Homo sapiens: one gene and its partners. The protein of the gene in region 1 purifies or fractionates together with the protein of each later gene. This does not show direct contact. Each region holds a gene or a part of one and is shown on either strand. Other genes may lie near its edges. The genes, in order: GOSR1, SEC22B, NAPA and STX12.

Region 1 (7,548 bases):
AATCAGAGCACTTACAACTCCTCCCCGAACATGCCAACAAAAATACCTACTAAAGTATTTAATACCTTAGCTTTGCTCTATTATCAGAACAGATCTCAGCCATGAAACATGAAAATATAAATAGCATATATGAATGAATATTGATAAGATGAATTTGTCATTATTAGATGATATGCTTATATATATGGAAAATACAAAATAATCTACAGATAAATTAGAAATAATAAAATTTAGTTCCACTTCCAGCTGTGAGTGGATTGGCTTGAAATGGAAAGACTTCTCGTCAAGAGCAATTAGAAAAGCTAAATTTTATTTTAAAAAAAAACTGTTTGAAGGATTGGAGAACTACTAATGTAAGAAGGACTTATAGGATCAAGATCCCGGAACAAAAAGAGCTGAGAGGTGAGCATGATGGTAAAACTTTCACCTCCAGGTATGTTTCAATTCATAGGTGACAGAAGAGAGGCCAGGCAAGAGACAGAGAACTCAAACAGAAGTTTTAGGCAGTATCACTGGGTGGAGGAAAATATGAGGTTAGCACCTGTCAAGGAGGTGGCACTGGTAAACAGTCTTCCAGTTAGGAAACCTGAATGGCTAGACATTAGAATTAAGGGTTAACCAAAAATAGACCAATTTTAACAAACACAGAATCCCTCTTGGTATTAGTTCCACCCCATACTGGATTAAGCTGATCTGCCCCTACCTGAACTGCCTGCAAGAAGAGGCAGTAAATTCTTTCTGGAGAAAGACAACATCATCTAGATCCTCAAATGATTAATACAAAGTTGTATCTATAATATATAGCATCCAATCAAAAGTTCTTATTATCAAAAGACAAGATTAAATTGTGAATGATCAAGAAAAATAGAAACAATCCTATGGGAAGTACAGATTTCTCAGTTATCAGAAATTTTTAAAGAATGATGATGGGCCGGGTGCGGTGGCTCACGCCTTTGTAATCCTAGCACTTTGGGAGGCCGAGGTGGGCGGATCATCTGAGGTTGGGAGTTTGAGACCAGTCTGGCCAACATGGAGAAACCTCATCTCTAATAAAAATACAAAATTAGCTGGGCGTGGTGGTGCATGCCTGTAATCCCAGCTACACGAGAGGCTGAGGCAGGAGAATCACTTGAACTCAGGAGGCGGAGGTTGCAGTGAGCTGAGATCACGCCATTGCACTCCAGCCTGGGTGACAAGAGCGAAACTCCGTCTCAAAAAAAAAAAAAAAAAAAAAAAAAGCCGGGCGCAGTGTCTCATACCTGTAATCCCAGCACTTTTGGGAGGCTGAGGTGGGAGGATCACAAGGTCAGGAGTTCGAGACCAGCCCAGGTAATATGGTGAAAGCCCATCTCTACTAAAAATACAAAACTTAGCCAGTGTGGTGGCAGGCACCTGTAATCCCAGTTACTTGAGAGGCTGAGGCAGGAGAATCCTTGAACTCAGGAGGTGGAGGTTGCAGTGAGCCGAGATCGTGCCACTGCACTCCAGCCTGGGCGACAGAGCAAGACTCTGTCTCAAAAAAAAAAAAAAAAAAAAAAGAATGATGATGAATGAATTCAAGAAAGTAGAAGACAAGATGAAGAATTTTAGCAGGTTTTTTTTTTTAAGACAGGGTCTTACTCTGTCACCCAGGCTGGAGTGCAGTGGTGTGGTGATGGCTCACTGCAGCCTTGACCTCCAGGGCTCAAGCAATCCTCCCACTTCAGCCTCTTGAGTAGCGGGACTATAGGGCGCATCACCACGCCTGGCTAATGTTTAAATTTTTTGTAGAGATGAGGTCCTACTATGTTGCCCAGGCTGGCCTCAAACTCCTGGACTCAAGCAATCCTACCACCTCAGCCTCCCAAAGTGCTGGGATTAGAGGCATGAACCACTACATCCAGCCCGATAATTAAAACATTTAAAAATTAAATCAACAATTTCACTTCTGGACAAAATGGATTAGCTGTATTTCTTTCTATTTTTCCCACTAAGCACAGCAAAAAAAAAAAAAATCATATATATATATTTTTAAAAAGACTCAAAAAGGTGGAAAGAAGAAGGCAGACCAGCTAAGGACCTCAGAATGTAAAGAACATGAAGGTGAGTTCCCTGGGTTTCCTTTTTGTTTCCTATGTCCTATACTGGGTGCTGGAGAAACTGGCAACCTAGAAATGCCAAAGGGTGCAGACAAGAAAAGTCCAAAGGAAAATGGAAAGCCTTCTCTCTCCAGACAAGGGATGAGGAAACAGGTATCCTAACAAGACAGAATACTTTTGGACAATAATTTCACCACTCTGGACAAATGCCACAGAAAAAACTGAGGCCCATCTTCACTCCTTGCCATCAAAGGCTGAGTGAGGAGGCTAGGCTTCCACACTCACCTGGCTCTAATGAAGCACTCCACCCATCCCCCACTTGGACTTCTCGTCCATTGCACAGCAGCAATGAGGCTCCCTGCCATGGTGGCAGTGGGGACCACATGCGGAGCAGTAACAAGGCACCCCCTCCCTGGGGAATCAGTGAAGGCCAAGGGAGAGCCTGAACTTCCACTGCCACCTGGAAGTAGCAAGCATTTCCCTATGTCCCCCAGCAGCATAGTGTCAGAGGAAGTCTGCTTAAACAGAAGACATAAATAAGATCAGAATCTCATAACAAATACCTGAAACATCAGGATACAATTTATAAAAATTGTCATTCCAATAGCCCAGAGAACTTCGACTTGAGTGAAAAAAAGACAACAGACCCCAACATCAAGATGACACAGATGTTGGAATTATCTGATGAGGACTTTAAAGCAGCTCTAATAAAAATACTTTAGTGAGCAATTACAAACAAACTTAGAACAAATGATAAAACGAGTCTCAGCAAAGAAACAGAAGATATAATGAGGAACTGAACAGAAGTTTTAGATACGAAAAATGCAATAATTGACATGAACTCAACGAATAGGCTCAACAGCAGAATGGAGGGAACAGAGGAAAGACATACTTTCTGTCAGCAAATCTGAAGACAGAATAGTAGATAGTACCAAATCCGAATGATGGAAAATAGACTGAAAAAAAATTAGCATAACTTCAGAGCTATGTGGGACATTAACACAAGATCTAGCATTCACGTCATCAGACTCCCAGAAAAAGAAGAGAAACAGTATGAGACAGAAAAAGTATTGGAAGAAACAATGGTTGAGAATCCCCCAAATTTGGCAGAAGACATAAATGTCAGAATCAAGAAGCTGAGGATATCCCAAACAGGATAAATCCAAAGAAATCTACACCAAGGCACATCATAACTTCTGAAAACTAAAGAACAGTTCTTGAAAGCAGTGAGAGAGAAAATGTATTTTAGCTACAGTGGAAAAACAATTCCAATTTTAGTCAATTTCTTATCTGAAACTATGGAGGCCAGAAGGAATTGGCACATTTTTCAAGTGCTGAAGAAAGAAATTGTCAACTTCAGATTGTATATCTGGCAACAATATCCGATCCCCCAAGAATGAAGGGAAATCAAGACATTCTCAGATGAAGAAAAACTAATAGAATTTGTCACCAGCTGATCTACTCTTTAAAAAAAAAATGGCTGAGGGAAATTCTTGAAACAGAAAGGAAACGATTAGAAAAAGGAATCTTGGGACACTAGGAACGAAGAAGAGTAAAATATGCATAAATCAAGTAAGCTTTCCTCTTCTCTTGAATTCTCTAACTTATGCCTGACCCTTGAAGCAAATATTGTAACACTGATGTGGTTCTCCTCAATGAATGCAGAGGAAATACTTAAAAACAACTATATTATAAATGAGTGGGGGAAAGAACTTTACAGGAATTAAGGTTTCTACACTTCACTAGAATTAAGTCAGCACCGGTAGACTGTGATAATTTATGTATCTATAAAGTGTGGGTTTGGACAGCAGATTTTATCAGGTTGAGGGCTCAGGCCGAGAGCATGTAGAAGCAGTTAGCTCACTCTTTCTAGATGTGGCGGCTGACAAGGACAAAGAGGGCTGGGACTAGAACTGCTGTAGACAAGGAAAGCAGCCAGTGGAGAAGAGCGCATACGCCAAAGAACGTGGATGATGGAGCACAGGCGGGGAGGTAGGATGAAGGAAATGGCTCTGGGAAGAAAGGGTCTCTATGTCTGAGAAAGGAAGAAATTGGCTGAAGATACAAATTAGAGACAAGGTGAGGGAAATTGAGGGAGTTGCCTGAGGATGATTCTCCTCCCAGTCAAGTAGGCACCTGCTGAGAGAAAGGATAAGCCGAGATGAGGGAGATGATGATGGTTTGGGGCGCAGAAAGCGGGAATGAAAGACAGGAGCTAAAGCCGAAGTTTTTTCTCTCTCGCTACTTAAAAGCTGTAAGATAACGAATTGATCAGCAGGTGGCAGTGTCCGCGGAGGCTCGCATCCCGTCGGCCCTGGCTCTCAAGGCGGAAACACGCACCATGGTGACTTTCCGGCCTGCATCGCCTCTGCTCCCCTATCCCGGCTGACGTTGGACGACAAAGATGGCGGCAGGGACCAGCAGTTACTGGGAAGGTGAGGGCGAGAAGGCCTCCGGGTGCGTCCTACGAGGGTGAGAGGGGCTGAGTGAGGACAGATCTTGGGAGAAGCAGCACAGGAAAGAACCAGACTCCCGGAGCGGCCGAGCTGAGCAGCGGGGCTTGCCTAAGTGGGATCCCCGGGGCCTTGGGGATACCGAACGGTCTGGGGTAGGGGTCTGGCCTGGCCGGGGCGTGTGAGCGGGACGTGGGGCAGGGGTTGGGCAGAGTGGACAGAGCGGGGATGTAGAGGAAGAGGGCTCTCAATCGCCTGGGTAGAATTGTGTTGAGGGAGTAATGGAACTCGGACGAAGGGGCTTGGGGTACGAACTCTGAGAGGAAACGAATGTTGAGGGAGAAGATCCAGAGCCCCGGAGACTGGAGGAGTCAGCGCATTGGAGCTGAGGTCACTATTGGAAAACTGAGTGGGAAAAGAGAAGGAGGAACTTGCATTCCGGTCCGTCGGAGGAAGTATGAAGAGAATAGGAGACAGAATGTCTCTTATTGGGTCTCCATGACAACTACAGGTTGGGGACTTCCAGGACTGGGTGTTTGAAGGAGGAGAAAATAACTTACCCTTCTGCTCTAGAGTCTAGAATCGGTTTTATTGAAAAAGTTGAGAGAACCTGTGTGAATTGCAGTTACATTTGCTATACTTCTCCCACCAAAAAAACCTTCCTGTGATTTGACAAATGCATTTGTTTAATTCCTGAAACTATAGTCGGATAAAGTGAGCTTACATAAAACTCATTCGTGGATTATGATGATCAACAAGAGCAGAGAAAGCTCACCTTTTTCTCCCAACTGTCTCTTTGCTTTACAGCCGCATAGAAACTACTTTCCAAATTCCTTTGACCTGTTTTTATTGCTATACACTGAAGCCTCTAGAAACCACAGTATTGTCACTATCAGCCCCTTGGTCTAAGAAACTCAATTCTAAATTTATCCAGATTTGCCTATCATACTTTCAAAATGCTTTTACTTATGTTTCCTACTAGAGAAGACAATTATTCCAATCACAGAAAAGCGTGCTTATAGTTTAAAACATGTATTACAATGCCCATTTGAAATGTGTGTACCAGCTAGAAAACTTTTTTTTTTTTTTTTTTGGAGACTCGCTATGTCGCCCAGGCTGGAGTGCGGTGGCGCTATCGATCTCGGCTCACTGCAGCCTCCGCCTCCTGCGTTCAAGCGATTCTCCTGTCTCAGCCTCCTTAGTAGCTGGGACTACAGATGCATGCCACCACGCCTGGCTAATTTTTGTATTTTTAGTAGAGACGGGGTTTCACCATGTTGGCCAGGATGTTCTTGATCTCCTGACCTCGTGATCCGCCCGCCTCTGCCTCCCAAAGTGCTGGGATTACAGGTGTGACCCACCGCGCCTGGCCGCTAGAAAACATTTTAAAATTATGTAGAAGAGGCTACTGATATCTTTATTACTAGTCATTAGCCTGTGGTTTTTTGAAGCAGCATGCTATAATATTACAGCGGCTCATTACTGACAACCTACTCTGTGCCAGCTGCTGTAAGCATATGATTACCAATACATAAGCAAACCCTGAAGGTAGGGGTTTAAAAAACAAGAAGCTGAAGTTCATAGGTTAAGTAGATTGTTGATAAATCATAGAGTCAGTAAGTGGCTGTGCCGAGATTCGAACTGGCATTTGGTCTCTGGGCAAATATGCTCCACTATGTTAACTACGCTTTCTATTTCTGGTTGAAAAGCATATTGAAATAATGTTTTGTATTCTTTTTGAAAGAGAGATTCTTATACCATTACCTCTGGTACTTCTGCCCTTTTATTTTAACCTTCACTTCACCATGAATGAGAATACTCGTATCTGTGTGTGGGTGTCCAGACTGTGGCTTCTGTCACGCAACCCTTAGATGCCAGACTGCTAAACCAATTTCTCTACTTGCCTGTTTGCTTCTGCTATTAAAACTTATGTACTTATTTCTATCATACTCATATTCGACCTTGTTAGTAGCACATTGTTTATTGTTAGTTTTAGCCCTCCAAATTACTTTCAGTAAGTTTTTTTCTTTTTTTTAGATGGAGTCTCGCACTGTCGCCCAGGCTGGAGTGCAGTGGCTCAATCTCCACTCACTGCAAACTCTGCCTTCCAGTGCCTTCCAGGTTCACGCCATTCTCCTGCCTCAGCCTCCTGAGTAGCTGGGACTACAGGCGCCCACCACCACGCCTGGCTAATTTTTTGTATTTTTAATAGAGACAGGGTTTCACCGTGTTAGCTAGGATGGTCTTGATCTCCTGACCTCATGATCCGCCTGCCTCGGCCTCCCAAAGTGCTGGGATTACAGGCGTGAGCCACTGCGCCTGGCCTCAGTAAGTTTTTTAAAGGCGGTTTTTGGCCAGGTGCGATGTCTCATGCCTGTAATTCTAGCACTTTTGGAGGCCCAGGCAGGAGGGTCACTGGAGTTTAGGAGTTCGAGAGCAGCCTGGGCAACATTGTGAGAAAAAACAGAAAAGAAAAAAAGAAAGAAAAAGGCAATTTTTGTGGTAACTTTTTTTCTTTATGTTCAATTGAGAAGTCATTTTGGTCCGGGCGTGGTGGCTCACACCTGTAATCCTAGCACTTTGGGAGGCCAAGGTGGGTGGATCACTTGAGGTCAGGAGTTAAAGACCACCCTGGCCAACATGGTGAAACCCCGTCTTTACTAAAAATACAAAAATTAGCCAGGCATGGTGGTGTGTGCCTGTAGTCCCAGCTACTTGGGAGGTAGTTGAGGCATGAGAGTTGCTTGAACCCAGGAGGTGGAGTATGCAGTGAGCCAAGGTCATGCCACTGCACTCCAGCCTGGGTGACAGAACGAGACTCCATCTCAAAAAAAAAAAGAAAAAAAAAGGTAAGTCATTTTGCTATTATGAAAAGAAGTTCATAAGCCTAATAAAGCTTTGGAACATAAAAAGCAAAATCCCTTTCAAAAGAATAATGGCTTCTTTCTTATAACATTAACTGGTAAGTTGATAATGCTGGTCATAAACCATATTTTTAGTTCCTTTGTGATTTGTAT
Region 2 (7,681 bases), on another chromosome or scaffold:
GACTCAGACAAAAACTTAATAACCACTGTACTTTAGTGCCTAACCACTGTACTTTACTGCCTTGTTCTAAGGCCTTTTAATGATGTCTTACCTCTTAGGAGTCCAGGAATAACTTTTTAATAAACAGATATCTCAACCAAACAGTTTTATATTTAATCACCTTAATTGTCCAGGCCAGATAATTCAATGTATTTTCATTTTTGTATGTTTTTGTTTTCTTATCAGTGTACTTTCAGTATTTACACTGATAATAGATATCATATTTTAGGTATTTACTAGGTGCCTGTACAAGCTGCCATATTACCGAAGATGGACAGTTATTCAGATAATACAATAGAGAGTAAAATTTACAAAATAATGTAGACAGAGTATTTTATACAGGGTGTTTCCTCTGTGTTTAACTGAAAATTTAGACTTAGGGCAGGAAGAGAGATGAGCTTTTCTTCTCAAATGTGGACTCCCTAACTGATACCCTGTTTATCTTTTTTCCTCATTCCTTTTATGGCATGTTTCTCCTTTTAGGATTTTTGCAATTTCTTTATCTACCTTTCTGTTCTGCCTCAAAATTATTGTATTTTCTTTCATTTTCCTCTGGCATCGTGAAGGGCAGTCCAGACTTGAAGAAAGTGTTAGATCTCACCAAATAGGCAGCAGGAAGCTCCAAGAAAGCAGATAGATAACATGTTATACAGTTAAATTGTCTCACGCTCCCAATCACTGAGGGTTGATTAATCCACTTACTGTAACTGCTTTTAGAGGAAAGTGGTTGGTTCTTGGTGCTGCTGGTCTTTGACCAGCTGAGTTCAGTGGGTATTGATACCCACTGAACTCAGCTATGAAAATGATAAAGAGCTATGAAGGCAAAAGTTGTTATTGATACAACTAGTTGTTCAGCAGTCTTAGGTGACAGCAACGAAAAGTATTGTGGTTGTGTGTCTAGTTACTACCTTCTATCTTTTGTAATATATAGATCCAAATCCTACATTTGCTGTTGGATAACCTCAAATTTGTTTCACAGTTTTTCCAGTTATTCTGATCCACTGCATTATTGGATTACTAATAGATATCTCATAATTATATCATATACAAATTTCATTAATCTTTTCTAGATGAAGTAGAAAACACAATGAGGATATCTAAATATTTTTAGGTGGACTGGCTAACTGTGGGCCCTTTGTGACTTTGATCTTGAAAGCAAACTAAAGGTCAGTATGTAAAACAGTGGTTAGGTTGTTTTGTGAGATCTAGATCAGAGCTGCCCCATGGTTTCTTGAGCATTTCCAATGAGTTAGAATTACATAGTAAGACTTCACCTAAAAGGTGGATCTACTATTGAAACAATTTCAATTATAGAGTTAGGGTAGCATAATGCTTAGGAGTAGGGGCTCCAGGGCCAGATTGCCTGCATTCAGATCCTAGTTCCTCCCTTTTTAGCTTAGAGGCTAAAAAGTTTGACTTCTCAAGTAAAAAATTGACATAATAATTCTAATCACCTCATGAAGAATAAACGAGTTAAATAATGTAAAGTGTTCAGAACAGTGGCTGGCAGAAAGTGAACACTTAATAATTTCATTTGATCATTTCTGAAGAATCTTTTCTAATTCCATCTTGCCTTTCTTTTTTTTTTTTTTGAGATGGAGTCTCACTCTGTTGCCCAGGCTAGAGTGCAGTGGTGTGATCTCAGCTTACTGCAACCTCCGGTCCCCAGGTTCAAACGATTCTCCTGCTTCAGCCTCCCGAGTAGCTGGGATTACAGGCACCTGCAACCCTACCCGGCTAATTTTTGTATTTTTAGTTGAGATGGGGTTTCAGCATCTTGGCCAGTCTGATCTTGAACTCCTGACCTCATGATCCACCTGCCTTGGCCTCGCAAAGTACTGGGATTACAGGCGTGAACCCCCATACCCAGCCTCATCTTGCCTTTCTTAAAGGTTCACAGATCAGAATTGCACATAATCGATACACTGGATGCAAATATGTAATGAATGAATGATTTTTCACATTACAAAATTAATTTGTGCATATTGTAGAAAGTTCAGTAAATACATAAAAGCAAAATGACCAAAATGTTAACAGTGTTTATTAACTATAATCTGTACTCAAATTATATCCATTTTGGTGGATGACCTTAAACATATGTATGTGTGTATAACATTAAATAATAGGTAATACCGTAAGACTGTTTCACCTAATTTTTTCCACTTAACAGTGTTTAATGAATATTTTCTCATATCATTAAACTCTATACAGCATTGTTTTAATGGCTGCATAGTATTCCATTGTATGAATATGCCAGAAAGATTATTATTTAACCATGAAGATTGTGCTAGCATTGTGTTCTCGAGGATGGTAATGCTAACTGAACCAGCATGGTAAGGTGTTGGTTGGCATACCATAATCCCTATAAATACATCCCCAGTGTTGTATATTGGCAGTCTTTACATTGCTGTTTGCAAATTCCTGAAATTGCAGAATGCTTTTGGCCAGTTTCTTATAGTTGATACAGTTGTTAGTCTTTTTCTCAGGTTACAGTAATGTTTACAGTGCCTCTTGTAAAGTCAAAGGATTTGTACCAATCTGAGTGGCAATTTTTTCCATGTTTCTTCAACTAGTCCTTTTAAGATTCTCACCTGCCTTTAGCAAAGAACATATATTTAACACCTGTGGTTGCAGTTATGTAAAAAATACCGATATCACAGCCCCACCTCCGAGATGCTGACTTAATTGGTTTGGTGGTGGAGACTGGGCATAAGTAGTTTTGTTTTTGAGATTTCCCCAAATGATTCTATTGTGAAGCCAAGGTTGAAAATCACCGATCTATGTTGATATTATTTCTTGGCACTTGAGCCAAGAAATAATAAAAATATTTCTTTTTTTTATTAAAGAATTTTAAATTAAATTAAATTTAATAAATTAATTTTATTAAATTAAAGAAATTTGCATGCTTTTTATCTACTCTTGTGGGTTCAGATCTCTTCAGAATGGCACTGGGGAAACAAAAAGATTGGTAAGTACCATTCAAATTTAGGAAAATAGAATATTGTGCACTAGTTCTTATTGGCTAAAAGCATATGACAGTATTCACTCTTACTGGCTGGCCATATATTAGTAGTACTGTTTAATATGATAATTTTGATATAATTATTATAAAGTACTGTTTAATATATAAAACTGTACATACATACAGACATACATATGTTAATATAGAACTATTTCTCAAATATATAACAAATATATGTCAATAAAACAAATAATTGCCATAACAGTGGTATTAAACAAGATAAATCTACAAACTAATACCTCAACTGGACTCTGCCTATCTCCCCTGGTTCACCTCATGCTTATTCACCTTCTTATTCTTATTGAAATTTCCAGTTCACCATTTTTACATATAGCTTAGAATCTTATTATCCTGTAATTGTACATTTGCTGATCTGCCACTTTATCATTTTATTGTTGCTTCCTTGTTTTTATTATCAGCTTAGCAGTACACTATCTACAATTTTAAGATATCACTTTGTACTTTATCAAAGTTAGACCTCAGATCCTGGGAGACCCTAGCATAAATACTTTTCTACTTAAATATTTAGTTATTAAACATCTGCCAAAGGGAGGCTATTCTTTCTATGTAAAATAAATAATTCCAAAATAGGATTATTTCTTTGCATCACATGGCAGTGTCCTAGTCTGGTTTACTATACAAAATACCATAAATTGGGTGGCTTATAAATGACAGAAATTGATTTTTCTAGTTCTGCAAGGTGAAGATCAAGCACCAGCAGATTTGGTGACTATTGAGGGCCTATTCCTGGTTCATAGATGTCACCTTCTGGCTGTTTCCTCACATGGTGGATGGAGCAAGCTAGCCCTCTGGGGTCTCTTTTATAAAGGTACTAATCACATTCATGAGGGCTCTACCCTCATGACTTAATCACCTCCCAAAGGTCCCACTTCTTAATACCATCACTTTGGGGGGTTAGGATTTCAACATGAATTTTGTGGGGGATACCAGCAAACATTCAGACTATAGCTGGGTAGCTGGCAGAAAGCTCCCCTACCCCACATGTGGATGGAAAAACAATGTCTATTTGCTTCCCATTCTTCAGGCACTTCCTTTCCCTGTTGGATCTAGTAGATTGGAGATGCATGGTTTTCTTCTTTTGAAATGACACTGCTGGTTTTTCCAGTAGATTTGCCCCCTCTTTTTAACAAAAATAATTGTAAAAGCAGTTAGAAATTGTTCAGGAAAATATTACCTGTAATTATAACATGTGAATGCTATTATTTTCATTTTTGTCTGCATATATCCCTCGATATTCAAACTTTTGCTGTCCAAACTTGGGAACCAAATAGATTTCTTCAGTAAAGGGTATCTGACATCCTAATCTTTGTCTCTACCCTTGGTCATTTTTATGTAATTGCAGTCAAAGTGTTCGTAATAATTTGCAGTCACTAGTACACACATTTAGTTTTGTTTAAATGCTAAAAACTGTAACACTTGTGGAAGGTTCTGCTGGATATTCCAACATAAAAATGAAATTCACCAATCTTGTTCCTAGGATATTCCCCTGAGTATAGCACATGCTGTGTAGTTCTGTGCCAATAACTGCAAATGAAATGGGTTAGGAGGAGAGTACTGTCCTAATAGTGGAAAGAACACTGGATTGAAAGTTAAGAGTGCTTAAGTGTATTTGAGGTATATGCTTTTGCTTCTTAGCAAATAACTAATGCGATCATCTTGAAGAAGTAGGGGTTAGGTCTTCCTCTGTACTCTGAAAGTAGGTTGTCTTTCCTCCGTTAAAATGAATCTTACTTACCTGTAAATGAAGGACCTCATTCAGAGTGTCCTCATAATATGATGCTTCTCACTAATTGATACAGCATTTTGTGGAAAATTCTTAAATGAAGATGTCTTCTTTCAGTCTGGCCGGGACCTTCAACAATATCAGAGTCAGGCTAAGCAACTCTTTCGAAAGTTGAATGAACAGTCCCCTACCAGATGTACCTTGGAAGCAGGAGCCATGACTTTTCAGTGAGTGTAATCTTGATTTCTTTATGATCATTTAAGTGAAATACAGTAACAGAATGCCTGATAAAAAATAATAATTTTTAAAAAGTAAAGATTACTTAAAAATGTTGTCTTTTGGGAGGAGCAACTTCTCTGGCTCTAATTCTACAAAATGGACATCTTGTTGGTTTTTTCAGCATGCTTACAGTAATTTAACCTGTTAACATGTGTCTATGCTGTGCCCATCATGCAATAATAGATAACTTCTTGCTTTAGGACTGTCTTGGAGCCAGATATGTGTAGGTTAGTACCCTTGCTCAAACATTTCCTAACAGTGTAACTTTGAACAGCTCACATAACTTCTCTAAGCCTCAGTTTCCTCTATAAAGTAGTGAAAATAAACATAGGAGGTTTGAGAGGATTGTGAGGGAATCTGTGTGTATTACTTAGCATCTTGTCTGACACACATGGGAAGAGTCAATAATTATTAGTTATTATTATTTTGAAAAAAGAAAATTATAAAAGATAAGAGCATCTTAATCAGTGGTTATAAATGATACAGCTGATAGAGGACTCAAAGGAACATTATTGGATTTTAAATTATCTACAAATAATTGGTATTTAATGTTTAATACATGCCAAGTTTGAAGCTGACAAAATAGGAAGGATTAAAAAGGAAAAGAGTACAAGAGCATCAGAGGAAAATAAAAACGGATTAGTTAAATAATCTTTGCCATTTTAGGGACTTAGATAGTAAGATAACTTAGGCCAGGGAGGAAGCTGCTATGTTTACTTTTAAAAAACAAAACAAAAATTCTCTACCTATAAAAGACAAGTAAAAAGTACATCAAAACAAAAATAAAACCCTAGGCAATTGGCTAAGAAAATGTTGGACATTATGTTTTATGATGTATTAATTTTTATAATATCTGAAATATTTTCTAGAACTCTAATTTTCAACACCAAAAATAGTCACTCACTTAATATCTAGTATCCTCATTTTCACCATGGTTTAGAGAACCAAGACCTAGGAAAGTTCTCATGGAATTGAGAAGAGATTTTCTTCTGCCTGATTCCTTTAGGACATTCATAATCTCATATCATCCTTTATTTCCATCCAAGAGCTATTAAGGGTTTATTCTTTGCCAGACCTTATATTGAGTCCTGCATTTAATGTCCATACCTTTTAACACTGTTCTCTTAGTAGAGAGAGAGACATATACTCAAACAAGTATACTATAATATCTTAATTGAAAAGATGTTGTAAATTAGATTTAAATGAAATGTTTTGGGAACAGAGAGAAGGAAGGAACAAATTCCCATTTGTAGGGGGTAAGTTTGAAGAAACGGGACAGAGGAGGGGAGTATATATAAAGAAGTTTCACAGAAAAAATTATGGTAGAATTGAACATATGAAAATGAACAGGATTTCTCCAGGTATTTAAAAGAGCATTAACGGTTAGAAAAAACAATATAAGCAGAAGTCCACAAATATGTAAAGAACCTAGCATGTTGGAGAACAGTCCGCCATTTGGTTTATTAAAATATATGATAGAATGTTGCTTACACTTGTTTTGAAAGGCTGTAAATATAATACCATGGAGTATGATTTTATTTTGTAGGTATTAGGGAACCCTTAGAGTTTGTAAGCAGGGTAATATGGTCATCTGTAGTCTCTGGGAATAAAACTGATGGTATAGAAGATGGTGTAGACTAAAAGCAAAGAGACCAGTTAACTCAGGTGCCCAAGCAAGGAATAAGACAGCTGTATTATTAATATTATTTTAAGGGGCCTGAGAGATCATATAATAGTCTTTATCCTTTATGGAGCCCTAGGATGCCTCAGGAGCCACATAGAAAGGGCAAGGATGGGAGTATATATAATGCTTTGGGCCCCTAAACTCCTCCTTATGTTTTAAATTTTTCCCTTTTATTTTCAGTTGACATGTAATAATTATACATATTTATGGGATACAGAGTGATATTTCAATACATGTATACAATGTGTAATCAAATCAGAGTAATTAGCATATTCATCACCTCAAACATTTATCATTTCTTTGTGTTGTGAACATTCAAAATCTTGTAGCTTTTTGAAAATACGTGGTAAGTTATAGCTAGCCATATTCACCCTACAGTTCTGCAGAACACCAGAACTCATTCTTCCTATCCAGTTGTAATTTTTTATCCATTAACTTGCCTCTGCCCATCCTCCCCTTCTCTCTACCTTTCCCTACTTCTAATACCCACAATTCTACTCTCTACTTCCATGAGCTCAAAAATTTTTTTTGGCTCCTACATATGAATGAGAACATGCCATATTTATCTTTCTGTGCATGACTGATTTTATTTAACTTAATGTCCTCCAGATTTATCCATGTTGCTGCTAATGATAGAAATTCATTCTTTTTTATGGCTGAATAGTATTCCATGGTGTGTGTGTGTGTGTGTGTGTGTGTGTGTGTGTAAAAAACACTTTTAAAATCCATTATTCTCTTGATGGACATTTCTCTTGATTATCTATCCATAGATATTATGAATGGTGCTGCCGTAAACATGGGGGTACAGATAAGTTTTTAACATAATGAGTTTTTTTCCTTTGGAGAAATACCCAGCAGTGGGATTGCTAGATTGTATGGTAGTTCTGTTTTTAGTTTTTTGAGAAACCTCCAT
Region 3 (7,681 bases), on another chromosome or scaffold:
GCCTGGAAAGACAGGGAACTGAGATCCAGAGGGATCAGAAATGGCTTCCTGGGGGAGAGGCCCCAACCCTGGGGGGATGAACATGAGTTCTGGGGTGCTCTCTGGCAGGGAGCAGCACTCCAGGCAAGGATTATTATGGAGCATGCCTTAGGAAGATGGAACACAGGGAGTTCCACGTTAGACCATAAAGGTGGAAGCGGCAGGTGAGGCCAGACAAGGAAGGTCTGGTGAGCAAGGGCTGGGCCTGGAGGAGGCACTGAAGATCTCCGAGGAGGCTAAGGGAGGCCCATCCTGGCGAGCTCCTGTTTGCCTTCTAGAAAGGACTGCAGCAGCTGGTGTGGGGGAGAGTGACAGCAGGAGGCTGTTGCAGTGCCGGTAATACTAGCAGATGCTGGTTATTAAGTGCTCGCTCTGACTCAGACCCTGGCCTGGGCCAGGCTCAACCTGCTGATGGATGGTATGGATTTAGTCCTTACAAAATCCCCGTGGAGGTAGAGAAACTTGGGGGCTTAGAGAAGTTGACTTATTTGCCCAGCCCCACAGTAAGTGGGAGAAGTGGCATTCAAACCCAGTTCTGTGTGATTCCAGAGCCTTCTCACTTAGCCCCTTTGCTGTGCTACCACGGTAGTTTCTCCTCAAGGTTCATGACCATCTCTGGGCACTACATTTAGGAAGGATGTTGGCAAACTAGGTGTGTTGGAGAGCTGCCACCCTCTTAACTGTCCTCCCATGGCTGTTTTCTCCAAATATGTGAAAAAAAGAGCTGGTGTGTTCATCTCAGTTCCTTCCAGCTCCCAGAGGAGCTGACCTGGTGCTGTGGGAGTATGAGTGAGGTTAGGGCAGAGGGCAGGGAGGATGGGAGGCTGGCCTGACCGGAGCTTGTGTGCCTGGGAGCTGGGAGCACAGCCAGAGGCCAGCTTGGGAGGACCTGCTTGGCGGGCGGGAATCACTCAGGCACCTCCTCCTCTCTGATCTGGGTTTGCTTGTGTTCAACATTTCATAACCCACCTTTATTCAAGGTCCTTGGTAGCTGCCGGGACTGGAGAAGGGAGCGTTGCGGCTCAGCTTGTCCTTGGTGCCTCTCCCTTCCCCTTTGGGAACCCCAGCAATGACAGCATCCCACATTGAGGGGCCTCTGCCCCTGTCAAAGGGCAAGTCAGAGAGCCCGCACCTGGGACGCAAGGCGATGGGTGTCTGTGCTGTCGCCTGCCTTGGTGCTCAGATGCCACCCTTGCTCTTCATTATTTCTGGGCTGCCAGACGCTAGGGGGCTTTGATGCACCAGCAGCCACTGAAGGCGACAGCACCAGCCAGTTAGGAGAAGCTCAAAGCCATACCTGTTCCTCCCCTTGGTGATGGGGGCGCAGCTCAAACTTCTGCTCTGGAAGCAAAAAGACGGAGACTTCCTAACTACAGCACAGTGAGCCAGCAGCAGAAGGGGATGGCTGAGTCCAGGCACACTAGTTCCTCCTCCCTGCTGCGTGTCTCCTGGGGAATCCAGAGTGCCTGCTGTGCCGTTTGGGGATCCTGCAGGTTCTGAATGGCGGCTCTGTTCCCTGGGGCTTTTCCTCATCCCTGATGTTTCCCAGCCACCTCCCCTGTCCCCAAAATAGCCAAAATAAAAACTTCCTTCCTCTTGGATACAAACGTGTAGAGGGAGTTTCTTCATCTGTGAAATGAAAATCATGGTAACTGTTTCCTCAGGTGGTTTTAAGGATAAATGAGACGATGTGTGGGAAGTGGTGGGAGCACGTTGCCTGGCTCTGCTAATGTTTATTAAGGGCTCACTGTCATCTTTATTAGTAGGTATTGTCATTGGAAGTTGAGCTAGAAGTGCTGGAGAAATAGGTGGCAGAGGGTGTTCTGTATACAAACAGTGCATTCCTAAGATCAGATCTTGACAAATCAGTTCCTGTTTGAACTACCTGTAGGCAATAACGGCGGGACCCTGGGAGGGCCAGCTTGTCTGTACAGGGCCTGCCCAGGGCCTTGGCTGAGACTGGTGTGGGCACGAGCTTCCAGATTTCTCTCCAGACCGCCTTCCTCTGCAGAGCGTGCAGAAACCCCGGCGCCATTTCCAGTGGGCACCCTGGTGAATCACAGTGCCCTGCCAGCTGCCAAGATCCACAACTGAAAACTTGGCATCTCTTGCCCAGTCTCAGAGTGGAGTCTTTCCTGAGGGCACACAAGGTTTCTGGGGAATCCGAGAGTTCCTGGCTTTCCTGATGGATAGGACTTTGCTGCCTGGCCATACAAACATTTCCGTCTCCTTTTTGGGATGGGGCTACTGAGAGGCAAGGGTCTTTGAGAACACCTTTTAAGAAAAAGGAAGTACATTCGCCCTTGGTCTGTGGTGAAATGTAATCCCGTTGGGGTGCAGGAGGGCATCCGTATAAGAAAATAAGAAACAGGGCGCCTGCCAGGCTGTGTGCCGTGTGGCAGGTGAGATCCTGGCTCTGAGCTCATCTCGAAGGGCCGTGGGCCTGTATGTATTTTGAGCATTGTGCAGTAAGGGGTGGGGCATGGGAGGCCAGGACTCTGGAAGCCGAAGGAGGAGCATTACTTAGCTAATCTGGGATGGAGATGAAGCCCATGCTGCTATTCTGAAGTAGGGAAGCGTGCCTGGAATCGGTCCTCTGCGGGGCCTGATGAGAGGGATGCTCTCGTTTACTGAACGCCCGTGGTGTGGCCAGCTCTCTGCTGGGCACGCCGTGGGGTGCTGCCTGCAAGATTGCTCGTGCTTCAGCAGCCCTGCAAGGTGTGGAGTCTTATGCCTAGTTACACATAAGGAAACGCAGGCTGGCACACGATGAGCTGGCGCTGAGGCCAGGCCTGTCTGACTACTGTCAGCATTTATTTTATTTTATTTTATTTTATTTATTTTATTTTATTTTATTTTATTTTATTTTATTTTATTTTATTTTATTTTATTTTATTTTTACCACCACAAGAAACTCTCTAGAATTCCCATTCCTGGGTGGCAGGCACCCCTTTGAGCGTATTTCTCTTCCTTTGTGTAATAGCAACCATTGAGCACCTTTTCCATTCTGCGCTCTGTGCCAAGTATTGACTATGTGTCATTTCTAATCCTCACAAAGACTCCTCCCAGGCCAGATTCATTGTCTCCATTTTATTTCATTTTTCATTTTTTGAGAGACAGGGTCTTGTTCTGTTGCCCAGGCTGGAGGGCAGTGGCGCGATCATAGCTCATTGCAGTCTCAACCTCCTGGGCTCAAGTGATCCTCTCACCTCAGCTTCCCAAGTAGCTGGGACTGTAGGCATATGCCACCATGCCTGGCTAATTTTTAGTAGAGTTGGGGTCTCACTGTGTTGCCCAGGCTGGTCTCAAACTCGAGATCAAGCAACCCTCCTGCTTCGGCCTCCCAAAGCCCTGGGATTGTAGGTGTGAGCCACTGTGGCCAGACATGCTGCCATTTTGTAGATAAAGAATGGAATCTCAGCACTTTGGGAGCAGAGGCAGGAGGATTGCTTGAGCCCAGGAGTTCGAGACCAGTGTAGGCAACACAGGGAGACCCCATCTCTTATTTAAAAAAAAAAAGCCTCAGGGATAACTAGCCCCAGGTCGAACACTTAGCAAAGTACCTGAAACGGACTTCAGCCCAGGTCTCGCCACCCCAAAGTCATTCTCTTTCTACCCCTTGTCTTTGCCCAGACAGGCATGTCACAAGAGGGTCCTGTGGCGATTTCAGAGCTGGGCAGTTAGCCTGTGACACTTTATTCTTTCACCGTTGTTAACTGGGGCTTGTGGAGAGATGGGAAAGCAGAGCTGGGCTCAGGCCCCGCCCTGCAGGAACTCATACTCTGCTTGGTCAGGCAAGGCCCACTGCAGAGTGGCGGGAGGCAGCTGGTGGTTTCCCGCTTCCAGGTGATACTGGTGGCGGTGCCTTCAGGATGCTGAGCCTCTGGCAGCTCCCAGCTCCAGTGCAGTCAGTGGACTAGCAGGGCTGGTGGCCCCCGGCTCCCTGTGCCAGGGTGGACCCTGCACCACAGGCAGCCTTAACTTTTTCTGACGTTCCTTCTGCCTGTTGGCTTGTTACTGGCAGGCTCGGTAGGGGGCTGGCTTAATTCATACTCCTTTGCCTAGAGGATGCTCCACGCAGCCCCAGCAGAGAGCAGCCTCTGCTCGTGAGATGAGGGAAGCCTAGGCAGTACAGGCTCCCTGGCTTCTTTAATCTAGAGGAGGGGTGGGGGCAGGCAGGGACCTTGTCCTCCCTCCTTATTTTCCCAAGGAGCCTTGGGCATGGGGAAGGAAGCCTTCCTGATCACTGAGTGAGAGGCAAGGGCAGGACTGGATCCCCAGGGCCCCAGTCCTCTTTCCAAGCCCTGCTGCTTCCTGGCAGGGTAAGCTTGGACAAGCCCTCCGCCCTCTCTGAGCCCCAGCTTCCTCGCCTGTAAAGCAAGGGCAGCACCCAAAGGGCTCTCGTGAGGAGCTGTGGGCTCCTTCCAGGGGAGTGCCTGGGAGGCAGGGAACGCCATGCGCCAGCCGTGATTAAGGCACATGGTCTCGAGAGCCGTGCAGGAGGTGGGCTTACAGGGAAGACACAGGCATGTGACGGGCCCTAGGACACCTTCCCCACTGAGGGTGCTGACTGGAGACTTGGGGCAGTGGGCCTTAAGTCTGAGGAGGAAACCGTAGGCCTGTGGCTGTGGCTTCCACAGAGGCAAGAGAGATAGAGTGAGTCCAGGACCCGAAATGGGGGCCTGACTTTGTCCACCCTGCCTCGTGAGGTCCTTCGGGAGCTGCAGGTGGTGGGTCTCAGGGCATGGTGTATTTCTGGCAGCCAGGAAGTGCCTGGTGGATGGAGGAAGGAAGGAGGGGGCTAAGACTCTGCCCTGCACAACCCCCTGGCCCAGGTCCCATCAGGCATCTGTGTATTCCTGGCAGTGCCCAGCCTTCCATATGGCAGTCCCTGAGGTTGGTGGCTGTGTTTGGGAGACCTGAGACTCCTTCCTCCGCCTTGGAGGGGGAGAGAGCAAAGCTGAGCGGGTAATTATAGACAGCCCTGCATCAGGCAGCCCAAACCAGTTCCCTCTATTCCCGGAGTGGCTCAGAGCCGTGGGATGGGAGGAGTGAAGCAGAGGCAGCTTGGGGGAGGTCAGTGGGGGAGGGACAGTCAGCTGTCACATGCGCTGCCACCCAGGCCCTCAGGAGAGGAGGCCCAGCTAGATTTTCCTTTCGTGTACTGTTGTTATCTCCTGGCACGTAATAAATGCTCGGATACCTGTTCCCCAGGTGAATAAATGTGTATGTGAATGGCTTCTTCAGGATCTTCCACTGGAACCTAGGCACGTCACTTTCCCCCTTTGGGGACTTCACTCCCATTTCTAAAAGAAGAGGATGGGACCCTGGAGATCTCCTGTCATCCCCTGGCCATGGTAATGGGCAAGACCGCGGGGTGCAGGGGAAGAAGGAGGCAAGCCTGGGGCCTGAGCAGGTGTTAATCCCTCTGGCCTTTCCACCCCACAGAATCATTGACCCCGTGCAGGGTTGGCTGTGCTTAGCCTGGGATCACAGAGTTTCAGCCCGGGCAGCTGGTAGGCTTTGTGTCCGTCCTGAAATAAACCCGGCTGGGCTGACTCTGCTCATTGTTGATTGCCCGCTGTGGGCCACTCAGTGACGTGGGTCATTTCTGCCCATCCAGGGTCTGTGCTTTTTCAGAGAGTGCATGGAGCTGGATAGGACTTAGTCACACTCAAAAAGAAGGGAAGGCTGAGCTGGGGGACCTGTGGGGTGGGCAGACCTGTGATTAAGGTCTGAAAATGTCCCTTTAAGAGAACATTCCAGAGAAGGTCCTTCTGAGGGTTTTTTGCAGCCAGGCCCCAAAGGACCCTTCAGGATTCTCAGCCAGAAGGTTTTGAAAGTTTCTTACCTCTCCAAGGCCAGGAATGGGTTCTAAAGAAGTCATTCCAGGCTGGGCACGGTGGCTCATGCCTGTAATCCCAGCACTTTGGGAGGCCGAGGCGAGTGGACCACTTGAGGTCAGGAGTTCGAGACCAGCCTGGCCAACGTGGTGAAACCCTGTCTCTACTAATAATACAAAAATTAGTAGGGTGTGATGGCACACATCTGTAATCCCAGCTACTCAGGAGGCTGAGGCAGGAGAATTGCTTGAACCCGGGAGTTGGAGGTTGCAGTAAGCTGAGATCGTGCCACTGTACTCCAGCCTGGGCGACAAGAGCGAAACTCCATCTCAAAAAAAAAAAAAAAAAAAAGAAGTCACTCCAAACAAGGCCCAAGGTGTGTTGGGCTGGCTGAGGTGAGGTGGGTGAGGGAAGACAGAGTGCAGCAGGGCGAGTGCGGGAAGAACACATTGCTCAGGGCCACTTCCCAGGGACAGCAGAGGGTGGGGGACAGCATCAGCACAGCCCCAGAAGGCAGAGGGTAGGCTTTTCATCTGGCAAGATGACAGAGAGGATAGGAATAAATAGATTATTTACCTGGTGTGATGTGGATTCAGGAGGCCAGGATCCCTGGCCCAACCAGCCCGCCCACCGTGGGGGCATTTATTTGCCTGCTGACATTGCCAGGCCTGGCCGCTGATCTGATCGCTGGTGGCTGCTTTCCAGGTAGTCGGTCTCAGTCAATTTTTCCTTCTCAAACTCACCTGATCAGCTGAATTACCTGGGCCCCCCAAACCCCAATTGTTAAAAATCTCATTTGCAGGCCCCATCCAGACCCTACTGAGCGAATCCCAAAGTGTGTGGCTGTGGGACTCTGGTTTGATGAAATGAGCACTTCATGTGGCTGAAAGGGATGGGCAGGTTGGACACACTGAATCCGCAGTGCAGAGGGAAGGAATGCTCACATCCCAGCTCCCAAAATTACCTTTGAGCCCCTCCACAGCTGGGGTTGGTGTGGACAAGTTCCCAGGTATAATGTTGGGCCAGTTGACACAGGGTGTGGGATGGGATGGTGAGGATGATTTGAATGGGAAAGTACCCACTCCTCCCTTTTCTCTTCCTTAAAAATAAACTAAACACTAGTTATGCCAGTGAAGAGAGGCCCTGAAATCCATTTGGTGGGACTCCAGAGTGTGTGGATTTTATTCTACTGATTATGTAGATATTGGGAGTTTGAGCAGTTACAGAGACTACAGACCTCGCGGGCTAAGCCTGGTTGTATTATTAAGGGCAGAAGAATGCAGTGGGACTTACGGGTTTGAGGTACTAATGAGGTCCCCCAAGTCAAGAGGAGGCTCATTATGTACATGTGGAGGTCAAGAAGCCAGAGTGAAGCTGCCCAAACAGGGTACCCTTTATGTTTTCAAATTCCTGTCTATCTCCCAGTGTATCCCTACTGTTGGACAATAAGTTTTTGGGGGGTTTTGCTGTTTTAAATAATGCTATGCTGAACATCCTTGTAACTTTTCTGATTAGTTTTTTTAGGATAAATTGCTAGAGATGTAATTCATTGCTGGACCACAGGGCCAAATATAAATCCTAATACTTAAAAATATGTGTGTGTGTGTGTCTGTGTATGTGTAAATGTATAGATATATACACACATATATACACATACACATATATACACATGTGTATATATGTACACGTGTGTGTATATATGTATATATTTTTTTTCTCGAAAAGATGTACAAACAGTTAAAAAAAAATTCAGACAGTACAAATACGGGATGTCCAGTGAATAAGTCTGCCTCCCACAC
Region 4 (7,681 bases), on another chromosome or scaffold:
CCAGTTAGGGCTGTGAAAATGAAAAGAAAGGAAAGGATAGGAGAGGTTTCCTTGGTGATAGAATTGGTAAGATTTAGCTATTGATTGGGCATTGGGCCTCAGGGGATCATTTAAGTCAACTGTTAGTAATATTAATAGCTAACATTTGAGTACATACTGTGTTCCAGGCAGTATGAAAAGTGCTTTACATACATTATCTTATTTTATAACAACTCTGAAGCACCAGTATCATTTCCATGTTATGTATTAGGAAACAAACTAAGAAAGGTTAAATAGTTGCCCTGCTAACAAATGACAATATCTGAATTTGAAACTAGGTCTCTTATGACCAGCAATTTGTCTTTTTATTACTTTTTATTAATATTACAGTTCTGGGCTGTGCTCAGTGGCTCACACCTGTAATCCCAGCACTTTAGGAGGCCAAAGAGGGAGGATTACTTGAGGCCAGGAGTTTGACACTAGCCTGGACAACATAGTGAGACCCCATCTCTACAAAAAAAAAGTTAAAAATTAGCCAGACATGGTAGCATGTGCCTGTAGTCCTAGCTACTCAGGAGGCTGAGGCTGGAGAATCTCTTGAGCCCAGGAGTTGGAGGCTGCAGTGAGCTGTGATTATGCCACTGTACTGCAGCCTGGGTGGCAGATCAATACTTTGTCTCTAAATAAATAAATTAAAAATAAATAAATCAATAACAGTGCTATAGCAGTTAACACTTCAGGTTTACAAGTATGCAAATAACTTGTTTTTTCACTCTCCAGAGGACACTCTGTGGGGGAAATACCTGAAGCCGTGGTGCTTTCTCTTCTCGTGGTGTGTTCATCTCCTCTGCCAGATTGTTAGCTCCTTTGAGTCAAGGGACATGACTTATTCATCTTTATATTTCCAGTACTTATCTCAGTCCCAAACATATGAAAGATTCATTGATCCACTATGCAACAAATATTCCTGGAGCACCTGCTGTGTGCTGGGGTGAAGCAGAACAAGAGATAAAATCCCTCCCCTGATTGTGTGTATATGTGTGTTTCTGTGTGCGGGGGGAGTATGTATACACACATACGTACATACACATATAAATAATGTCAAGTAATAATAAATGCTATGAAGAAAAAGCAGGGTAAGTGGGTAGAGAGTCAGGGAAGAGGGAGGGTGGGTGCATTATTTTAGTTGATCAAGGAAGGCATCTCTGAGGAGCTGACATTTGAGTGAGTAGACATGTGAATGAAATGAGCAAGAGCTGTGTGAGTAGCTGGGAAAGGCATTCTAGGTAGAGGGCAAGAGCAAGGACTTTGATGTGTTCAAAGAAGAGCAAGGAGGCTAGTTTGGCTGGAGTACCGTTAGAAAAGGGAGGCAGAATAGGAAAAGAGGCCAGAGAGGTAACCAGGGATCACATTATATAGGATCTTGATGCATAATAAATTGTATCAAATTGATTTGAATGAATGAGGCATTTCTACCATTTTGGAACTCTTCCTGCCTCTTTCCCCTTGTACTGTGTAGTACATACCATATCCTATGACCCTAGGCAGTGTGAGTTGAGATTCTTCCAGGCCGGACACGGTGACTCACGCCTGTAATCCCAGCACTTTGGGAGGCTGAGGCAGGCGGATCACAAGGTCAGGAGTTTGAGACCAGCCTGGCCAATATGGTGAAACCCTGTCTTTACTAAAAATACAAAAAAATTAGCCAGGCGTGATGGTGCACGCCTGTAATCCCAGCTACTTGGGAGGCTGAGGCAGGAGAATTGCTTGAATCCGGGAGGCGGAGGTTGCGGTGAGCCGAGATTGCGCCACTGCACTCTGGCCTGGATGACAGAGCGAGACTCAGTCTCAAAAAAAAAAGAAAAAAGAAAGAAATTCTTCCTTTGGAATTGTTTGGTGAGAAATGGGAAATCTGAAATTGATGGGATGACGTTGCATCTACTCAGTTATCAAGCTAGTGCCTATCCCCAAACCTCTCCAAGAGGCCAGCACACCCAAATATACCCTTAGAATATGAGCTCTCAGACATATATATTACCCACACACCCATACAGCCCTGCAAGGACTTGTACCCATTAAAAGTCTGAGAGCATAGTTATTCTTTTTTCTAAACTGTTCAGCCACAGATGTGGGGTTGGAATTGCTGAGCACATCAGCCTGAGATAAGGCAGCTCACTGCGTGGGTTGTTACAGGTACAGCTAAGGTTGACTGCCTGGTACAAGTGGTGATTATCAGTATGTGTTGGGTACAGAAGAAAAATATTTGACTTACTGTGGAACAAAGTGTCTGGGCAAGTATTGCTGAGGCAGATATAGCTGAAAACCTATTAGCCTCAAAGTTAACTCTGAAGGGATTAAAGAACAGCATTTCTGACTGGGCGAGGTGTCTCACGCCTGTAATCCCAGCACTTTGGGAGGCCGAGGCGATCGGATCACCTGAGGTCAGGCATTCGAGACCAGCCTGGCCAACATGGCGAAACCCTGCCTCTACTAAAAATCAAAAAGTAAGCCGGGTGTGATGGCAGGCGACTGTAGTCCTAGCTGCTCGGGAGGCTGAGGTAGGAGAATCGCCTGAACTGGGGAGGTGCAGGTTGCAGTAAACCAAGACCAAGATCGCTCCACTGCACTCCAGCCTGGGCAACAGAGCGAGATTCCATCTCAGGAAAAAAAAAAAAAAAAGAACAGCATTTCTGTTCTTTATGTTGCTAATTGATGTGATCTTGTTTACTAACAAAATAAGAAGAGTGGAGGTCTCACTCTGTCACCCAGGCTGGAATGCAGTGTGCAATCGTAGTCCACTGTAACCTCAAACTCTTGGGCTTTAGCGATCCTCTTACTTGAGTCTCCCAAATAGCTAGGACTACAGGCATATGCCACTGCGCCTGGCAAGTTGTAAAAGTTTTTTAGAGACGGGGGTCTCGCTGTGTTGCCCAGGCTGGTCTTGAATTCCTGACCTCAAACCATCCTCCCACCTCAGTCTCCCAAAGCAAGAAGAGTTGAACATTTAAAATTGATTATTATGAAATCCTTGGGGTTCCACTTTCAAAGTTATTTTCATGTTTGCCCCTTATTTTTTATGTTTCTTTGCTATCCTCTTAAGTATTCATCAGCTCAACATCTGTATTTCAACAGCATATTCATAGTGTCTCTGATTATGGTCTTGCCCCATTCTAGTTTATACTGATGGTGCTATCAGCACTATGTCTAAAGTCCTGTTTTTATTATACTGCTCACTTCCTCAAGAGCCTAAAGTGGCTCTCTGTTGTCTATTGAATCAGATGGTTTTTTTTGTTTTTGTTTTTTTTTGTTTTTTTTTGAGCCAAGTCTCACTCTGTCGCCCAGGCTGGAGTGCCATGGCGCAATCTTGGCTCACTGTAACATCCACCTCCTGGGTTCAAGCAGTTCTCCTGCCTCAGCCTCCCGAGTTGCTGGGATTACAGGACCTGCCACCACGCCCAGCTAATTTTTGTATTTTTATAGAGACAGGGTTTCACCATGTTAGCCAGGCTGGTCTCGAACTCCTGACCTCAGATGATCCACCTGCCTCGGCCTCCGAAAGTGCTGGGATTACAGGCATGAGCCACCGTGCCTGGCCTGAATCAGATCTTAATATTTCACCTTGCTTTCACTCCCTGCGATCTTAACCCAAATTAGCCATATTTTCTACTCTTCCTTACTCTTTGCTAGGAAGGCTATTTTCTTTATGTTTCTCAACTCTATCTTTCAGTTTATATTTTGCTCATTTGGTTCCTCCTTTTTTTTTTTAGAGAAAGAGAGTTTCGCTGTTGTTAACAGCCCAGGCTGCAATGCAGTGGTGCGATCTCGGCTCACCACAACCTCTGCCTCCCAGGTTCAAGCGATCCTCCAGCCTCAGCCTCCCGAGTAGCTGGGATTACAGGCGTGTACCACCACGCCCGGCTAATTTTGTATTTTTAGTAGACACAGGGTTTCTCCATGTTGGTCAGGCTAGTCTTGAACTCCTGACCTCAGGTGATCCGCCCGCCTTGGCCTCCCAAAGTGCTGGGATTACAAGCATGAGTCACTGCGTCCGCCCTTTGGTTCCTCCTTTTTTTAGTATCTTTTCTCTCCCTACCTCATTGGCTATCTAAATTATACAAATCCTCTCAGTTGTGCATAAGTCCTGCTGATAGCAATTAAGTTTTTCTTTGCTTGTTTTTTTTTTTTTTTTTTGAGACGGAGTCTTGCTCTGTTTCCCAGGCTGGAGTGCAGTGGGGCGATCAGGCTCATTGCAACTTCCGCCTCCCAGATTCAAGCAATTCTCCTGCCTCAGCCTCCCCAGTAGCTGGGATTACAGGCGTGCACCACATGCCCGACTAATTTTTGTATTTTTAGTAGAGACAGGGTTTCACCATGTTGGCCAGGCTGGTCTTGAACTCCTGACCTCAGGTGATCTGCCTGCCTTGCCCTCCCAGAGTGCTGGGATTACAGGCGCCCAGCCTTCCTTTGCTTTTGAAAGACAAAGTGAAGTCAGAAAGATCATGGACTCTCCGGGGTCAGCAGATCTGTGACTGAATCCCTCCCCTTCCATGTATTAACCTCGAGCAGGTTATTTTCCCTGCCGTGTGTAACCCCATTTATAAAATGAGTGAAATTATTAAAAGGGGATGTTTGAGGCTGGGCACAGTGGCTCACACCTGTAATCCCAGCACTTGGGGAGGCTGAGGCGAGTGGATCTCTTGAGCTCAGAAATTTGAGACCAGCCTGGGCAACTTGGCGAAACCCTGGCTCTACCAAAAATACAAAAATTAGCTGGGTGTGGTGGCACACACCTGTAGTCCCAGCTACTTGGGAGGCTGAGATGGGCAAATCGCTGATCGCTTGAGCCTGGGAAGCAGAGGTAGCAGTGAGCCGAGATCACGTCACTGCACTCCAGTCTGGGTGACAGAGTGAGACCCTGTCTCAAAAAAAAAAAGGGGGGATGTTTGAAAGTGTCTGGTATACTGCCTGCCTGGCACATAGCAGGCGTTCAATAAATGGTGACATTATTATTATTTTTATTATTTTGAGATGGAGTCTTGCTCTGTCACTCAGGCTGGAGTACAGTGGCGCAATCTCAGCTCACTGCAACCTCTGCCTCCCGGGGTTAAGCAATTCTCATGCCTCAGCCTCCTGAGTAGCTGGGATTACAGGCTCATGCCACCACGCCCAGCTAATTTTTGTATTTTTAGTAGAGACAGGGTTTCACCATGTTGACCAAGCTGGTCTCGAACTCCTGACGTCAGGCGATTTGCCCACTGCAGCCTCCCAAAGTGCTGGGATTATAGGTGTGAGCCACCACGACCAGCCCCAGTGGTGACATTATTAATACTTGTTGAATCCCTTGCCCTGCAATAGTTTAATAGTTAGGTAGGCAGGCTCAGGAGTCATATTGCCAGGATTTGAATCCTAGATCTGCTTCTTACTAGCTGTGTAAACACATTGCTTTACCTATTTCTCAGTTTCCTTATTGTTAAAATGGAGTTAATAATACCTATTTCATAGGGTTGTGATGATTAAATGAGATAATTCATCTACAGTCCCTGCTACATAGTAAGTGCTTAAGAAATGTTAGCTCTCATTTTGGTGTATTTCCTTTGAATTTATAATACAAGCAATTTTCCCTCACAGTTTAGCACGCACTTATATTATATATTCTTTAATTAATTCAAGCTTTTTGATATTGTCACCCCAAGCAGAGAGATCACTGTTAGTTTTGTGGAGACCATGCATTATACATTTGTCTTTAGTCACAGTGCCTGGAACAACAATGCATATATAGTTGGCATTCAATATGTACTTAATTGATTTTATTACTGCTAAGTACATTTTTCTTGGTCTTGAGTTTGATAATAATAGCTATCTTTAATTGAGTGCTTTTATGTGCCATTGTTCTAAATTTAGCTTCGTATCATCTCATTTCATCCTCACAACAACCATATGAAGATTCTCTTATTCTCATTTTTAAGGCAAAGAAACTAAGGCATAGAGGAGTGGAGCCTTTTACTCAAGATCACTTTGCTTGGAAGTAGCGGGACCACGACAAGCATAGGCATAAGCAGTGGTTTTTTGTTTTTTGTTGTTTTGAGAAAGGGTCTTGCTCTGTCACCCAGGATGTGCCAGTAGTACAGTGGTACCGTCATAGGTCACTGCAACCTTGAACTCAAGGGATCCCCCCACCTCCACCTTCCGAGTAGCTAGGACTACAGGCACGCACCACCACGTCCAAGTAATTTTTTAATTTTTTGTAGAGACGGGCTCACTTTGTTGCCCAGGCTGGTGTCAAACTCCTGGGTTCAAGTGATCCTCCCACCTTGGCCTCCCAAAGTGCTGGGGTTACAAACTTGAACCACCATGCCTGGCCATATAGGCGGTCTTAATTCAGAGCTATGCTCTTAACCATTGCATATTCTGAAACTGGTATGGTTAAAGGAAAATTATACCTTTGATATTTAGTATCCATTTTCACTTTAGTCTAGAACTTTACTGTTATGGTACAGTGGCTATTTTTTAAAGTCAGGTTGATGGACACGGTGACTCACACCTGTAATTCCAGCACTTTGGGAGGGCAGGGTGGGCAGATCGCCTCAGGTCAGGAGTTCGAGACCAGCCTCGCTAACATGGTGAAACCCTGTTTACTAAAAATATACAAATTAGCCCGGCATGGTGGTGGGCACCTGTAATCCCAGCTACTTGGGAAGCTGAGACAGGAGAATCACTTGAACCCAGGAGGTGGAGGTTGCAGTGAGCTGAGACCGTGCCATTGCACTCCAACCTGGGCAAAGAGAGCAAAGCTCTGTCTCAAAAAAATGAAACATTTTTTAAAAAAGGTAATTTTCATTGTAGTGATATAAAAACAGAATGTAAACCTAATTTTCAGAGTAAAACACTGAGATGACTTCATTTTCATAATCACCACATAGGCTATCATTTTCTCATTTGGTGTAAATAATGTTTTTTTGTTGTTGAATTTGTTTAAAATACTGACTTAGAGCATTCGATCCTGTCAAATGAAGAGAAATCTTTTTCCCACCTCTGATGATAGTTACTTTCAATATAATTTGACTTTGATTTGACTTTGCTTTGGATGAAGGTTCATTTGGAGATTCAGATTCTGCCGATATCAGCTTAAAGTACAAAAAGAATTTTCAGTTTAGAGTAGTTCCTAGTGTGGATGTTAGCTGTAATGTATAACAAATTGATTTGCTTCATACTCTTTTAAAAGTTTTAGCCAGGATATGCTTTTTTAAAATGAGAGGTCAGCGATAGGAGAAATTGAGTCCTAGTTGTTTGTTTTTTGTTTTTGTTTTTGTTTTTTTGAGATGGAGTCGCGCTCTGTTGCCGAGGCTGGAGTGCAGTGGCACGATCTCAGCTTACTGCAACCTCCGCTCCCGGGTTCAAGCAATTCTTCTGCCTCAGCCTTCTGAGTAGCTGAGACTATAGGCATGTGCCATCATGCCTGGCTAATTTTTGTATTTTTAGTAGAGATGGGGTTTCTCCATGTTGGCCAGCCTTGTCTCAAAACTCCTGACCTCAGGTGATCCACCCACCTTGGCCTACCATAGTGCTGGGATTACAGGTGTGAGCCACCACGCCCAGCTGAGTCCTAGTTTTAAAAAGAACAAAATTGCTTACACAGAACTGAAGGACTTGTCTTTACCTTTGGCCTAGTCATCTGGTTTCTAGGATTATGTAACATTTCATA

Evidence for each region.
Region 2: the proteins of GOSR1 (region 1) and SEC22B purify together in Homo sapiens (affinity purification with mass spectrometry; 3 studies listed by BioGRID and IntAct, with this or other methods). This does not show direct contact.
Region 3: the proteins of GOSR1 (region 1) and NAPA purify together in Homo sapiens (affinity purification with mass spectrometry; 3 studies listed by BioGRID and IntAct, with this or other methods). This does not show direct contact.
Region 4: the proteins of GOSR1 (region 1) and STX12 purify together in Homo sapiens (affinity purification with mass spectrometry; 5 studies listed by BioGRID and IntAct, with this or other methods). This does not show direct contact.

Annotation. Positions count from the first base shown.
Region 1 is NC_000017.11:30,472,952-30,480,499, forward strand, and holds the start of GOSR1 (Golgi SNAP receptor complex member 1), read left to right. Parts: upstream 1-4,456; 5' UTR 4,457-4,482; coding exon 4,483-4,513; exon of another isoform or gene 4,514-4,861; coding exon of another isoform or gene 4,862-5,042; intron 5,043-7,548. UniProt on the Homo sapiens protein: Involved in transport from the ER to the Golgi apparatus as well as in intra-Golgi transport. It belongs to a super-family of proteins called t-SNAREs or soluble NSF (N-ethylmaleimide-sensitive factor) attachment protein receptor.
Region 2 is NC_000001.11:120,166,191-120,173,871, reverse strand, and holds part of SEC22B (vesicle-trafficking protein SEC22b), read left to right. Parts: intron 1-4,922; coding exon 4,923-5,032; intron 5,033-7,681. UniProt on the Homo sapiens protein: SNARE involved in targeting and fusion of ER-derived transport vesicles with the Golgi complex as well as Golgi-derived retrograde transport vesicles with the ER.
Region 3 is NC_000019.10:47,504,547-47,512,227, reverse strand, and holds part of NAPA (alpha-soluble NSF attachment protein), read left to right. Parts: intron 1-7,681. UniProt on the Homo sapiens protein: Required for vesicular transport between the endoplasmic reticulum and the Golgi apparatus. Together with GNA12 promotes CDH5 localization to plasma membrane.
Region 4 is NC_000001.11:27,776,058-27,783,738, forward strand, and holds part of STX12 (syntaxin-12), read left to right. Parts: intron 1-7,681. UniProt on the Homo sapiens protein: SNARE promoting fusion of transport vesicles with target membranes. Together with SNARE STX6, promotes movement of vesicles from endosomes to the cell membrane, and may therefore function in the endocytic recycling pathway.